2 linked regions of the Homo sapiens genome follow. The main gene of each other region encodes a partner of the protein of the gene in region 2 in a complex. Links are inferred from orthologs where the notes say so. Each region holds a gene or a part of one and is shown on either strand. Other genes may lie near its edges. The genes, in order: F2 and F2RL3.

Region 1 (4,074 bases), on a different chromosome or scaffold from region 2:
AGTGATCCTCCCAAGTAACCTTGACTACAGGCACATGCCACCACGCCTAGCTAATTTTATTTTTTGGGGTCTCACCACATTGCCCAGACTGATCTCGCATTCCTAGCCTCAACCTTAGTCTCCTAAATTGCTGAGATTACAGGTGTGAGCCACCATGCCCTACCTGATCTGATATCATTTTAATGATACAAGGGAAGATGTAGGGAGTTAACTAAAAAAGCACCGTCCTCACTCAATATTTTCTATATTTGAAGTCCTACTTTGAGCTTTCTTAGCCATGTGACTTTGGACAAGGTACTTCTCCAAATCTCAGTTTACTCACCTACCTCTTGTGAGGATTAAATGAGATAATCCATTAAAACCCAGAGGGTGGAACATCTTTAATGCCTGTAAATTCAACCTGCCATCTTTCCTCTCACCTGGCCCTGCTCTGAAGATAGATAGTGGATTCTTTTGGGACAGGGTCTCACTCTGTCACCCAGGCTGGGGTGCAGTGGCTCACTGCAGCCTCCACCTCCTGGGCTCAAGCGATCCTCCCACCTCAGCCTCCCGAGTGCTCGGACTACCAGCGTGCACCAGGTGGTGGATTCTTAAGTCTTCTTTATCCAGTAGTATTACTGGCTCTTCCTGAGCCCAGAGAGCTGCCCATGAATAGCACTGGGAGCATTGAGGCTCGCTGAGAGTCACTTTTATTGGGAACCATAGTTTTAGAAACACAAAAATAATTCTTTCACGGGATTGGTTCCAGGAGCCCAGAATATGAGTGGCCCCCTACTCTCCAAACTGATCAATGACCTTCTGTATCCACTTCTTCAGGCGGAACACATGTGTGTAGAAGCCATATTTCCCATCCCGGTCACAGCCTTCACCCCATGAGACGATGCCCATTTGATACCAGCGGTTGTTAAAGGGGCTCTGAAGAAGAAAGATGAGGTTTCCAATAGAGTCAAGTTCAAGGTCACATCAGTATTCCCCTGCCAGGCAACTGTTTCTAGATACTAGAGTTTCTCCCCACCCCCAGAAGATGTGTTCACCAGGCCCTGGGCTTTAGAGAAGCTTACCTTCATGACAAAGGGTCCCCCACTGTCACCTTCACAGGCATCCCCTCGTTTCCCTTCATCAGGCTTGTAACCTTGAAAGAGAACAGCCGTCTGTGCTCAGGAGCATAGCTCATAGCCCAGCCACGCCCCTTCACGAGACACAGCTGGTGAGAGTCCACTTACCCCTCCAGTCATTCTTGCTGTCCCCACTTCCTCACCCTACCCATCCAATCCTAGCAAATCTTGTCGGCTCTACCTTCAGCATAGACCCCAAATCCAAACCCTTCTCACCACTTCTAGCTCGAGCTCCTGAACCCACTAGTTTCCTTCATTCTTTGCCCACCTACAGTCTATTCTCCACCCAACAGGCAGAATAATGCTTTTAAAAAGTTGGACCAGACCAGGGGAGGTGGCTCATGCCCAAGCCGGGTGGATCACTTGAGCTCAGCAGTTCAAGACCAGCCTGGGCAATATGGCAAAACCCTCTCTCTACAAAAAATTAGCTGGGCATGGTGGCACATGCCTGGAGTCCCAGCTACTCGGGAGGCTAAGAGAGGAGGATCACTTGCGCCTGGGAGGTTAAGGCTGCAGTGAGCCGTGATCATGTCACCACACTCCAGCCTGGGCAACAGAGTGAGACCCTGTCTCGAAAAAATTAATTAATGATAAAAGACCAAGAAAAAAATTTAAATTAAAAATTAAAAAATTAAAAAGTTAGACCTACAAGTCTGATGAGGATAATAATGATAGTTGCTTTTATCCAAATCTCCCCACGTATCCTCTACAAACAATACAGAACAACACTAACAACAGTAAAACCTACACAAAAAAACCACACCTTCACTAGGTGCTGTGGCTCACACCTGTAATCTCAGCACTTTGGGAGGCCAAGGCGGGCGGATCATGAAGTCAGGAGTTTAAGACCAGCCTGGCCAACGTGGTGAAACCCTGTCTCTACTAAAAATACAAAAATTAGCCAGACATGTTGGTGTGCGCCTATAATCCCAGCTACTCAGGAGACTGAGGTAGAATTGCTTGAACCTGGGAGGTGGAGGTGGAGGTTGCAGTGAGCCGGGATTGCACCACTGCACTACCGCCTGAGCGACAGAACAAGACTCTGTCTCGAAAAAAAAAAATTAGCCGGACATGGTGGCATGTACCTCTGATCCTAGCTACGTGGGAGGCTGAAGCAAGAAGAGGATTGCTTGAGCCCAGGAGTTCAAGGCTGCAGTGAGCTATGACTGTGCCACTGCACTCCAGCCTGGGCAACAGAGCAAGACCCTATCTGAAAAAAAAAAAAGCTAGCAAGAGAACAGCAAAGTAAACCAGACAAAAACGTAAGCAAACTTTTTAAGAGAAAAAAGCAGAAATTAATGAACCACAATAGAAAAATAATAGGCCTGGCCGGGCGCAGTGGCTCACGCCCGTAATACCAGCACTTTGGGAGGCTGAGGCAGGCGGATCACAAGGTCAGGAGATCGAGACCATCCTGGCGAACGCGGTGAAACCCTGTCTCTACTAAATACAAAAAATTAGCTGGGCGTGGCAGTGTACACCTGTAGTCCCAGCTACTCGGGAGGCTGAGGCAGGAGGATGGCGTGAACCCGGGAGGTGGAGCTTTCAGTGAGCCGAGATCGCACCACTGCACTCCAGCCTGGGTGACAGAGCAAGACTCTGTCTCAAAAAAAAAAAAAAAAAGGCCAGGCACGGTGGCTCACACCTGTAATCCCAGCACTTTGGGAGGCTGAGGCAGTCGGATCATGAGGTCAGGAGTTCGAGACCAGCCTGGCTAACATGGTGAAACCCCGTCTCTACTAAAAATATAAAAAAATTAGCCGGGCATGGTGGCGTGCACCTGTAACCCCAGCTACTGGGGAGGCTGAGGCAGGAGAATCACTTGAACCCAGGAGGTGGAGGTTGCAGTGAGCTGAGATCACGCCACTGCACTCCAGCCTGGGCGACAGAGTGAGACTCCATCTCAAAAAAAAGAAAAATAATAGGCCTAATAATTTCATAAATCAAATCCCTAGATATTTGTTTTGAGAAAACCGGCAAGCCATTAACTAATTTACTCAAGAAAAATAAGATATTACAAATACATAAAATAAGATACCAATAGAAAAAATTATAAGAGAATACATTGCAGCAGTCAAGAAAGATACAATAATAGACTTGAGCAAATAGGAAAACGTTTCTTATCCTTGGATAAAATGACTCAACATCAAAAATATGTCCATTCTCCCAGTTAATTTGTTGAAGTGTCATAATCCCAATAAAATTACCACCAAGCTTTTTTATAGACCTAGGCATGTTGACACTAAAGTTCATATGGAAAAACAAACATGCAAGAATTGCCAGGAAACCACTGGAAAGAAAAACTAAAAGAGAACATTAGCCTTCCCAGCTATGTACGCTAAAGCCTCTATCATTAAAACAATGTGACGCTGTACACAGACAGACAACAGACCAGGAAAGCCGAGTCGAACATCCAGAAACATACTCATCCTTAAGCATACTCTATCCATAGAAATCTAGAACGTGGGGCTGGGCACCGTGGCTCATGCTGGTAATCCCAACACTTTGGGAGGCCAAGGCAGGAGGATCACTTGAGCCCAGGAGTTCGAGACCAGCCTAGGTAACATAGCAAGACCCCGTCTCTACAAATCAAATCAAATTAGCTGGATGCAGGAAAAAATAAAACTAAAAAATAAAACCTAGGTCAGGTATGGTGGCTCACGTCTGTAATCCCAGCAGTTTGGGAGGCCAAGGCGGGAGACTTGCTCGAGCCCAGCCAGGAGTTTGAAATCAGCCTGGGCAGCACAGGGAGACTTGTCTATATTTCAAATAAATAAATGAAAATAAGATACAATCTAGAATGTGATAAAGGTGAAATCTCAAATCACTAGTTCAAAGATTGATTGATTGATTGATTGATTTTGAGATAGAGTCTCGCTCTGTTGCCAGGCTGGAGTGCAGTGGCACCATCTCGGCTCACTGCAACCTCCTCCTCCCAGGTTCAAGTGATTCCCCTGCC
Region 2 (7,981 bases):
ACATGCCAGGCAGCTTAAAACAATGAGAGTTTATTGTCTCACAGTTCTGCAGGCCAGAAGTCCAGGGTCAAGGTGGTGGCAGGGCTGGTTCCCTCTGGAGGCTGTGAGGGAGAGCCCGTCCCAGGCCTGTCTCCTGGCTGCTGGTGGCTGTTGGCTGTGCTTGGCATCGTGGCATCCCTTAGTTTGTGTCCGTCCGCATCACTCCCATCTCTGCCTCTGCCGCCACATGGCTTTCTTCTCTGTGTGTCTCTGTGTCCTCTCCTCTTCTCTTTTTTTTGGAGACAGAGTCGCTCTTTCGCCCAGGCTGGAGTGCAGTGGCACCATCTCAGCTGACCGCAACCTCCGCCTCCCAGGTTCAAGCGATTCTCCTGACTCAGCCTCCCCAGTAGCTGGGTGGGCACCTCCCCAGTACAGGTGCCCACCACCACGCCTGGCTAATTTTTGTATTTTTGGTAGAGATAGGATTTCACCATGTTAGCCAGGCTGGTCTTGAACTCCTGGCCTCAGATGATCTGCCCACCTCGGCCTTCCAAAGTGCTGGGATTGCAGGTGTGAGCCACCACACCCACTATCTCTCGTCTTCTTTTTTTAATTTTAGTTTGTTTATTTTTGAGACAAGGTCTTGCTCTGTTGCCCAGGCTGGAGTGCAGTGGTACAATCATAGCTCACTGCAACCACAACCTCCCAGGCTCAAGTGATCCTCCCGCCTGTGCCTCTTGAGTGGCTGGGACTATAGGCGCATGCCACAATGCCTGGTTCATTAAAAAATTTTTTTGTGTGTAGAGATGGGATCCCCCTATGTTGCCCAGGCTGGTCCCAAACTCCTGGCTTCAAGCAATCCTCCATCTTGGCCTCCCAGAGTGCTGAGATTATAGGCGTGAGCCACTGCACCTGGCCGTCACTTTTCGTCTTTTTAAAATTGAATTAAATTAATTAATTAATTAATTTAGAGACAGGCTCTCTGTCACGCAGGCTGGAGTCCAGTGGCGCAATCTCGGCTCACTGCAACCTCTGCCTCCCAGGTTCAAGCGATCCTTCTGCCTCAGTCTCCTGAGTAGCTGGGATTACAGGCGCCAGCCACCAAGCCCAGCTAATTTTTGTATTTTTGGTAGAGATGGGGTTTTACCATGTTGCTCAGGCTGGTGTTGAACTCCTGGGCTCAAGTGATCCATCCGCCTTGGCCTCTTAAAGTGCTGGGATTACAGGCGTGAGCCACCAGGCCTGGCCTCTCCTTATCTTATGAGGACACCACCCACACTGGATGTAAGGCCCACCCTTCTCCAAAGTGACCTCCGCTAGTGACAGTTGTAACAACCCTATTTCCAAATAAGGTCACATTCTGAGGTCCCAGGAAGGACGTGAAGTGGGGGAAGGGACCCTGTTCGACCCAGTACAGCCTTCCCCACTTTGTGTCACTGGAGCAAAGAGGAGTGGGTGCCCATGCCCCGGCTGCCCCCTTCCGCAGAGGCCTTGGAGGCCACGGTGTCCCCCGGCGACCGTTGGAAGAGCCCTGCCCGCACCTTGTCCCTGAACTCGGCCGACACGTAGTAGTAGATGAAGGGATCCACGCAGCTGTTGAGGGTGCTCAGCGCCAGGCTGGGCACGTAGGCACCATAGAGGTTGCCCCAGGCGCTGGGGCTCGGGTCCGAGTAATGCAGCAGCAGCAGCAGGTTGCTGGGCACGAAGAAGGCCACGGCGGAGGCCAGCACCACTGCGGTCAGCCTCAGCGCGTGGCCGTAGCGCCGGCCGCTGGCCGCCAGCGTGTGCAGGGTGGCCCCGTAGCACAGCAGCATGGCCAGCAGGGGCAGGAAACAGCCCAACAGCGCCAGGCAGGTGAAGGCCGGTTGCCAGTGGGAGGCCTGTGCGTCCAGGGGCAGCGCGTCATGGCAGAGCACGCGATCGGAGCGCGCCAGCCGGAAGGTCTGCCGCTGCAGTGTCAGGGGCAGTGCCAGGGCGGCCGCCATGAGCCAAGCAGCCATGCAGAGTCCAAGGGCCAGGCGCCGGCCACGCAGGGCGCGGGCCCGCAGCGGGTGCACCAGGGCCAGGTAGCGATCCAGGCTGACGGCGGCCAGCAGCAGCACTGAGCCATACATGTGACCATAGAGTGCGGCCGTGGCCAGGCGGCAGGCGGCCTCCCCGAAGGGCCAGCGCTGGCCACGCAGGTGGTAGGCGATCCGCGGGGGCAGCGCCAGGGCCAGCAGGAGGTCAGCAGCCGCGAGGTTCATCAGCAGCATGGTGGAGGGCAGCCGAGGTGCCTGCGTGGCCAGCACCCACAGCGCCAGCCCATTGGCCGGCAGCCCCACCACCAGGACCAGCCCATAGAGGGCGGGCACCAGCCTGGTGGGCACCCAGCCCAGAAGCAGTGCCCGTGAGCTGTCCGGGAGCTCCAGGGTGTCACTGTCATTGGCACAGACTTGGCCTGGGTAGCCGCGGGGGGCAGGCAGGATTGAGGGCGTGCTGTCTGGGAGAGAGAGGGGACCTCAGTCAGCCCCTGCCTCGGCAGGTGACGAGAAGCAGCAGGGAGGGAGGTGCTCAGAGCCTGGGGTCTGCCCTGGTGGGAAACAGCTGGACATGACACTCAAGGGAATAGCCCAGCCCTATGGGGTCAGAGACGGGATACAGAGTGGGCTGGGCTGAAGCCCGCAACTTCCCGGCCTCCCCCTCCCCAGCTCCGGGCCCCCAGCTCCATCTCTGATGTAACCCCATCTCTGCACCCCAAAGCCAGGACCACTCACCATCACCACCTCCGGTGCTCCCGCTCTCGTCGTAGACGCTGGGGGTCTGGGTGCCGCCAGACAGGCTGAACCCCAGCACCAGGGGCCACAGGAGCAGTCGCCCCCACATGACTGCACTCAGGCTGCTCTGGGCTGTGGCCTCAGGCTTCCTGCCTCGCCGGACCCTGAGCCCCAGCTTCTGGAGCCGAGGCGGACGAGCAGATCGCGCCGGTAGAGATAAACCAGGAAGGCTGCCCCTGCCCCCGCAGACCCACCAGGGCCGCTTGCCAGCCAGCCCGTGGGAGGACTGGAGTGTGGGTTATGGAGACCGGGCTGCCCCACGTGGCTATATCCAGTGTGGCGCCTCCCAGGGACCCAGGTGCCAGGCCAGCAAGATGCAGGGGGGGGGGTCCCAGCTGCAGCCAGCACCCCCGGTCCCTGACCAGCCCAGGAAGCATCTGCGGTTCAAGTGGCCACTTCCTGCCAGCCGCTCACATCTGCAGCCACTGTTCTCACGACAGCCCTGTCCTCACCCCAATCCCCACGCCCATCACGGGCTCTGGGCCTTTCCTGAAGTCACCCCCCGACTTCCTATCTCTGGTGAGCAGGATAAGAAGAGCCCTGCTAGGCCAGGCACGGTGGCTCACGGCTGTAATCCCAACATTTTGGGAGGCCAAGGCAGGCAAATCACCTGAGGTTGGGAGTTTGAGACCGGCCTGACCAACATGGAGAAACCCCATCTCTCATAAAAATACAAAAATTAGCTGGGCTTGGTGGCAGATGCCTGTGGTCCCAGCTACTCAGGAGGCTGAGGTGGGAGAATTGCTTGAACCCAGGAGGTGGAGGTTGCAGTGAGCCGAGATCTTGCCACTGCACTCCAGCCTGGGCAACAGAGCGAGACTCGGCAAAAAAAAAAAAAAAAACCAAGGATGGGCGCCTCCCAGAGGGTAATAGCGAGGGTCCCTTCAGACCCCCAGAGCAGCACGAGCCCAGCGTCAGGGACTCTGGCTGAACCTCGAGAGCCCCTCAGCATCCTCGGCTGACCCCATACTCACAAGGCACCCCTGTATGAGTGCCTCACTTCACTCTTGCCCAGGGGACACACGGGCATCTGTAGGGGAGACAGTGATGCTGGGGACAGCACCTGCCGAGGACCGGGGGGACTTCGGGGTGTGTGGCTCGCCTGCTCTGACCTCTGACCCTGAGTGAGGTGGCCAGGTTGAAGGGTCCCCAAGCCAGCCTCCAGGGGGCCTCCCTCCTCTAGCCCCAGCACATCCCCACTCCTGGGTACCATTGGATGGGGGCTCATCGGGCAGATGAAGAAACTGAAGCTCGGGGGGGTACCCCTTCCCTCTTCTGCACAAGGCCCCTCAGTGTTGTCCCTCCCTGCCTCAGAGAGGCCTCAACCCGTCGTGCCCTGGGGGAGTCTGGTATGGGTGGTTCTGGCCCCAGTGTGCTCAGCGCTGGGCTACAGGGGATGGGGGACAGGGCTTGGGGGGGTCTGGGAGCAGGAGGGCCTAGTTGGGAGCCATGAGGATTGGGGAAAATAAAATGAACTAGGGATGGGGGAGGGAGGGGTCCAATGTGGCCGTTTCCTGCCTGGGGGAGCCCTAATCTCATCACACACTTGAGCACTCGGGGATCAGCCAGGAAGTGACTGAGCAGAGTCTTGGACAGAGTCAACACCCAGCTCCAGGAGGAGACACTGAAGCCTGGAGAGAGAGTCTAGCTGGGGCAGGGTCTCAGAGGCCCTGCTCCCATTTCTGGGCAGTTTCCATGGCCACCAATGAGAAAATCAGCTTCACGTCAATGACTTGGGGAAAAAGGTGGCTGAGGACACCCTCAGCACACGGAAAACCCACGCCTGGGCTCCCCCCTCCACCGTCTTCTCTGTGAGCAGAGTGGGAAGCTGTGCAGGGGAGGCTGGGCACACCGGCAGTCCAGTGATGCTGGGGCAGGGTGGTTTGAAGATGATGCATCAAAATAGTGATGCACGACCGGGCGCAATGGCTCACGCCTGTAATCCCAGCACTTTGGGAGGCCAGGTGGGTGGATCACGAGGTCAAGAGATCGAGACCGTCCTGGCCAACATGGTGAAAACCCGTCTCTACTAAAAATACAAAAATTAGCCAGACATGGTGGCGCACGTCTGTAGTCCTAGCTCCTCAGGAGGCTGAGGCAGGAAAATCTCTTGAACCCAGGACGCAGGGGTTACAGTGAGCTGAGATCACACCACTGCACTCCAGCCTGGGCAACGGAGCGAGACTCCGACTCAAAAAAAAAAAAAAAAAAAAAAAAAAGCCAGGCACAGTGGCTCACACCTGTAATCCCAGCACTTTGGGAGGCAGAGGCGGGTGGATCACCTGAGGTTGGGAGTTCGAGACCAGCCTGACTAACATGGAGAAACCCCATCTCTAGTAAAAATACAAAATTAGCTAGGCATGGTGACATATGCCTGTAATCCCAGCTGCTCGGGAGGCGAGGCAGGAGAATCACTTGAACATGGGAGGCAAAGGTTGCAGTGAGCCGAGATTGCATCATTGCACTCCAGCCTCACTCCAGCCTGGGCAACAAGAGTGAAACGCGTCTCAAAAAAAAAAAAAAAACATAGTGACGCACATGCCCTTATACTCAAGGGTTCCATGTCTAGGAATTTCTGCCAGACACACGCACAGGAAGATGTCCTTGGGAGGATATCCACACAGCAGCACAAAGCAGGGAGGTGCCCGCCAACAGCCCCTCCCCGGGAACAACACGGCAGCACAGGCTGTCGGGGGAACCCCAGCAAGCAGAGGTGACGATGACATTGCCCCTGTCAGGCACAAGCTGTACCCAGGCGACACTGCCCAGGTACTTCCCGGAGGACGCTGGGCGCGACAGCTTTGGAGGAGAGGAAACCATGTGTCTGTTTTGTACTGTTGGAGTTTTCTGTGCACTGTGTTACTTTCCATAAAAACTTTTTTTTTTTTTAAGATGGAGTCTCGATCAGTCGCCCAGGCTGGAGTGCAATGGCGCAATCTCAGCTCACTGCAACCTCTGCTTCCTGGATTCAAGCAATTCTCCTGCCTCAGCCTCCCCAGCAGCAGGGATTACAGGCGCCTGCCACTATGCCCGGCTAATTTTGTGTATTTTTAGTAGAGGCGGAGTTTCGTCGTGTTGGCCAGGCTGGTCTCAAACTCCTGACCTCAGGTGACCCACCTGCCTCAGCCTCCCAAAGCACTAGGATTATAGGCATGAGCCACTGCACCTGGCCAAAATATTTTTTATTTAGAGATGGAGGTTCGCTCTTGTTGCCCAGGCTGAAGGTGCAATGGTGCCATTTCGGCTCACTGCAACCTCTGCTTCCTGGATTCAAGCGATTCTCCTGCTTCAGCCTCCCGAGCAGCTGGGATTATAGGCACCCGCCACCATGCCTGGCTAATTTTTGTATTTTTGGTAGAAACGAGGTTTCATCATGTTGGCCAGGCAGGTCTCAAACTCCTGACCTCAGGTGATCCACCCGCCTCAGCCTCCCGAAGTGCTGGGATTACAGGCGTGAGCCACCACGCCCGGCCAAAATCTTATTTTCTTAAAAAGGGCAGACAGCCAGGCCGGGCTGTTTCAGAGTGGTGGCTCATGCCTGTAATCCCAGTGCTTTGGGAGGCCGAGGTAGAGGGATCGCTTGGGCTCAGGAGTTCAAGACCAGCCTGGGCAACATAGTGAAATCTTGTCTCTACAAAAAATCAAAAAATGAGGTGGGAAGATTGCTTGAGCCCAGGAGGTCGAGGCTGCAGTGAGCTGTGATTGCACCACTGCACTCCCACCCGGGTGACAGAGTGAAACTCTGCCAAAAAAAAAAAAAAAAAAAAAAAAAAAGGCAGCCTTAAAAAGTAAGGGAATTCTGACATATGCTACATTGTGGATGAATCTTGAGGACATTATGCTGAGGGAAATAAGCCGGTCACGGAAAGACAAATCCTGAGTCATTCCACTCATGGGAGGTCCCTGGAGTGGTCACCTCCATAGAGACAGGAAGTAGAATGGGTTGGGGGGTGCCAGAGGCTGGGGGAGGGGGATTGGGGAGTGAGTGCTTAAGGCCACAGTGTTTCAGTTTTGCAAGATGGAAGAGTTCTGGGCTGGGTGAGGTGGTTCACGCCTGTAATCCCTGCACTTTGGGAGGCCAAGGCAGGTGGATCACTTGAGGTCAGGGGTTCGAGGCCAGCCTGGGCCACAAAGTGAGACACCCCCCCAACCATCTCTACAAAAAAATACAAAAATTAGCCGAGTGTGGTAGTATACACCTGTGGTCCCTGCTACTCGAGAGGCTGAGGTGGGAGGATCACTTGCGCCTGGGAGGCAGAGGTTGCAGTGAGCAGAGACTGTGCCACTGCCCTCTAGCCTTGGTGACAGAGCGAGACTCTGTCTCCAAAAAAAAAAAGTTCTGGAGATGGATGGTGACAATATGAATGTACTTACTGCCACTGAGCTGAACACTTAAAAATCATTAAGATAAACTTGACCACAATTCAAATAACTTTTTTTTTTTTTTTTTTTTTTTTTGGAGACAGAGTCTCACTCTGTTGCTCAGGCTGGAGTGCAGTGACACAGTCTCTGCTCACTGCAACCTCCACCTCCAGGGTGCAAGTGATTCTCCTGCCTCAGCCTCCCGAGTAGCTAGGATTACAGGTGCATGCCACCACACCCGGCTAATTTTTGTATTTTTAGTAGAGGTGGAGTTTCACCACCTCGAACTTCTGGCCTCAGGCGAGCCGCCTGCCTCAGCCTCCCAAAGTGCTGGGATTACAGGTGTAAGCCACTGCACCTGGCCCTTTAAATAACTTTTTTAAATGGGGAAAAATTGGCAGACAGGCGCAAGTCAGTGGCGTGTCCTGGATTTCATTGTCCTCCAACCCCTCAGGTCCCTGGAAGCTCCTGGATGTGGCCTCCACTCTCTCCTGCCTTCACTGCCTCCAGCAAAAGGTCAGGGTCAGGGAACAAGTTAGAAGCCACATGGGCAGGCTGGGTGCGGTGGCTCATGCCTGTAATCCCAGCAGTTTGGGAGGCCGAGGCAGGCGGATCGCCTGAGGTTGGGAGTTCAAGACCAGCTTGACCAATTTGATGAAACCCTGTCTCTACTAAAAATACAAAAATTAGCTGGGCGTGGTGGTGCGTGCCAGTAATCCCAGTTACTCAGGAGGCTGAGACAGGAGAATCGCTTGAACCCGGGAGGTGGAGATTGCAGTGAGCCAAGATCGCGCCATTACACTCCAGCAGCAAACATGGTGCCA

What was found.
Region 1: the proteins of F2RL3 (region 2) and F2 are in contact, whole or in part, in a crystal structure (PDB 2PV9), measured with the Mus musculus proteins. The link is inferred for Homo sapiens from one-to-one orthologs. Residues at the interface, in NP_032001.2 of Mus musculus: Asp54, Lys55, Pro56, Asn57, Pro58, Arg59, Gly60, Tyr61, Pro62, Gly63, Lys64, Cys66, Asn68, Asp69, Ser70; in NP_034298.1 of Mus musculus: Glu385, Leu386, Leu387, Cys388, His403, Tyr407, Trp410, Asp411, Arg428, Arg453, Glu454, Asn455, Leu456, Trp501, Gly502, Asn503, Trp508, Thr510, Gln516, Arg538, Ile539, Asp559, Ala560, Cys561, Glu562, Gly563, Asp564, Val585, Ser586, Trp587.

Annotation. Positions count from the first base shown.
Region 1 is NC_000011.10:46,736,106-46,740,179, reverse strand, and holds the end of F2 (prothrombin preproprotein), read right to left. Parts: intron 1,133-4,074; coding exon 1,062-1,132; intron 916-1,061; coding exon 772-915; 3' UTR 674-771; downstream 1-673. UniProt on the Homo sapiens protein: Thrombin, which cleaves bonds after Arg and Lys, converts fibrinogen to fibrin and activates factors V, VII, VIII, XIII, and, in complex with thrombomodulin, protein C. Functions in blood homeostasis, inflammation and wound healing.
Region 2 is NC_000019.10:16,884,053-16,892,033, reverse strand, and holds the start of F2RL3 (proteinase-activated receptor 4 preproprotein), read right to left. Parts: upstream 3,036-7,981; 5' UTR 2,845-3,035; coding exon 2,736-2,844; intron 2,462-2,735; coding exon 1,413-2,461; 3' UTR 1-1,412. UniProt on the Homo sapiens protein: Receptor for activated thrombin or trypsin coupled to G proteins that stimulate phosphoinositide hydrolysis. May play a role in platelets activation.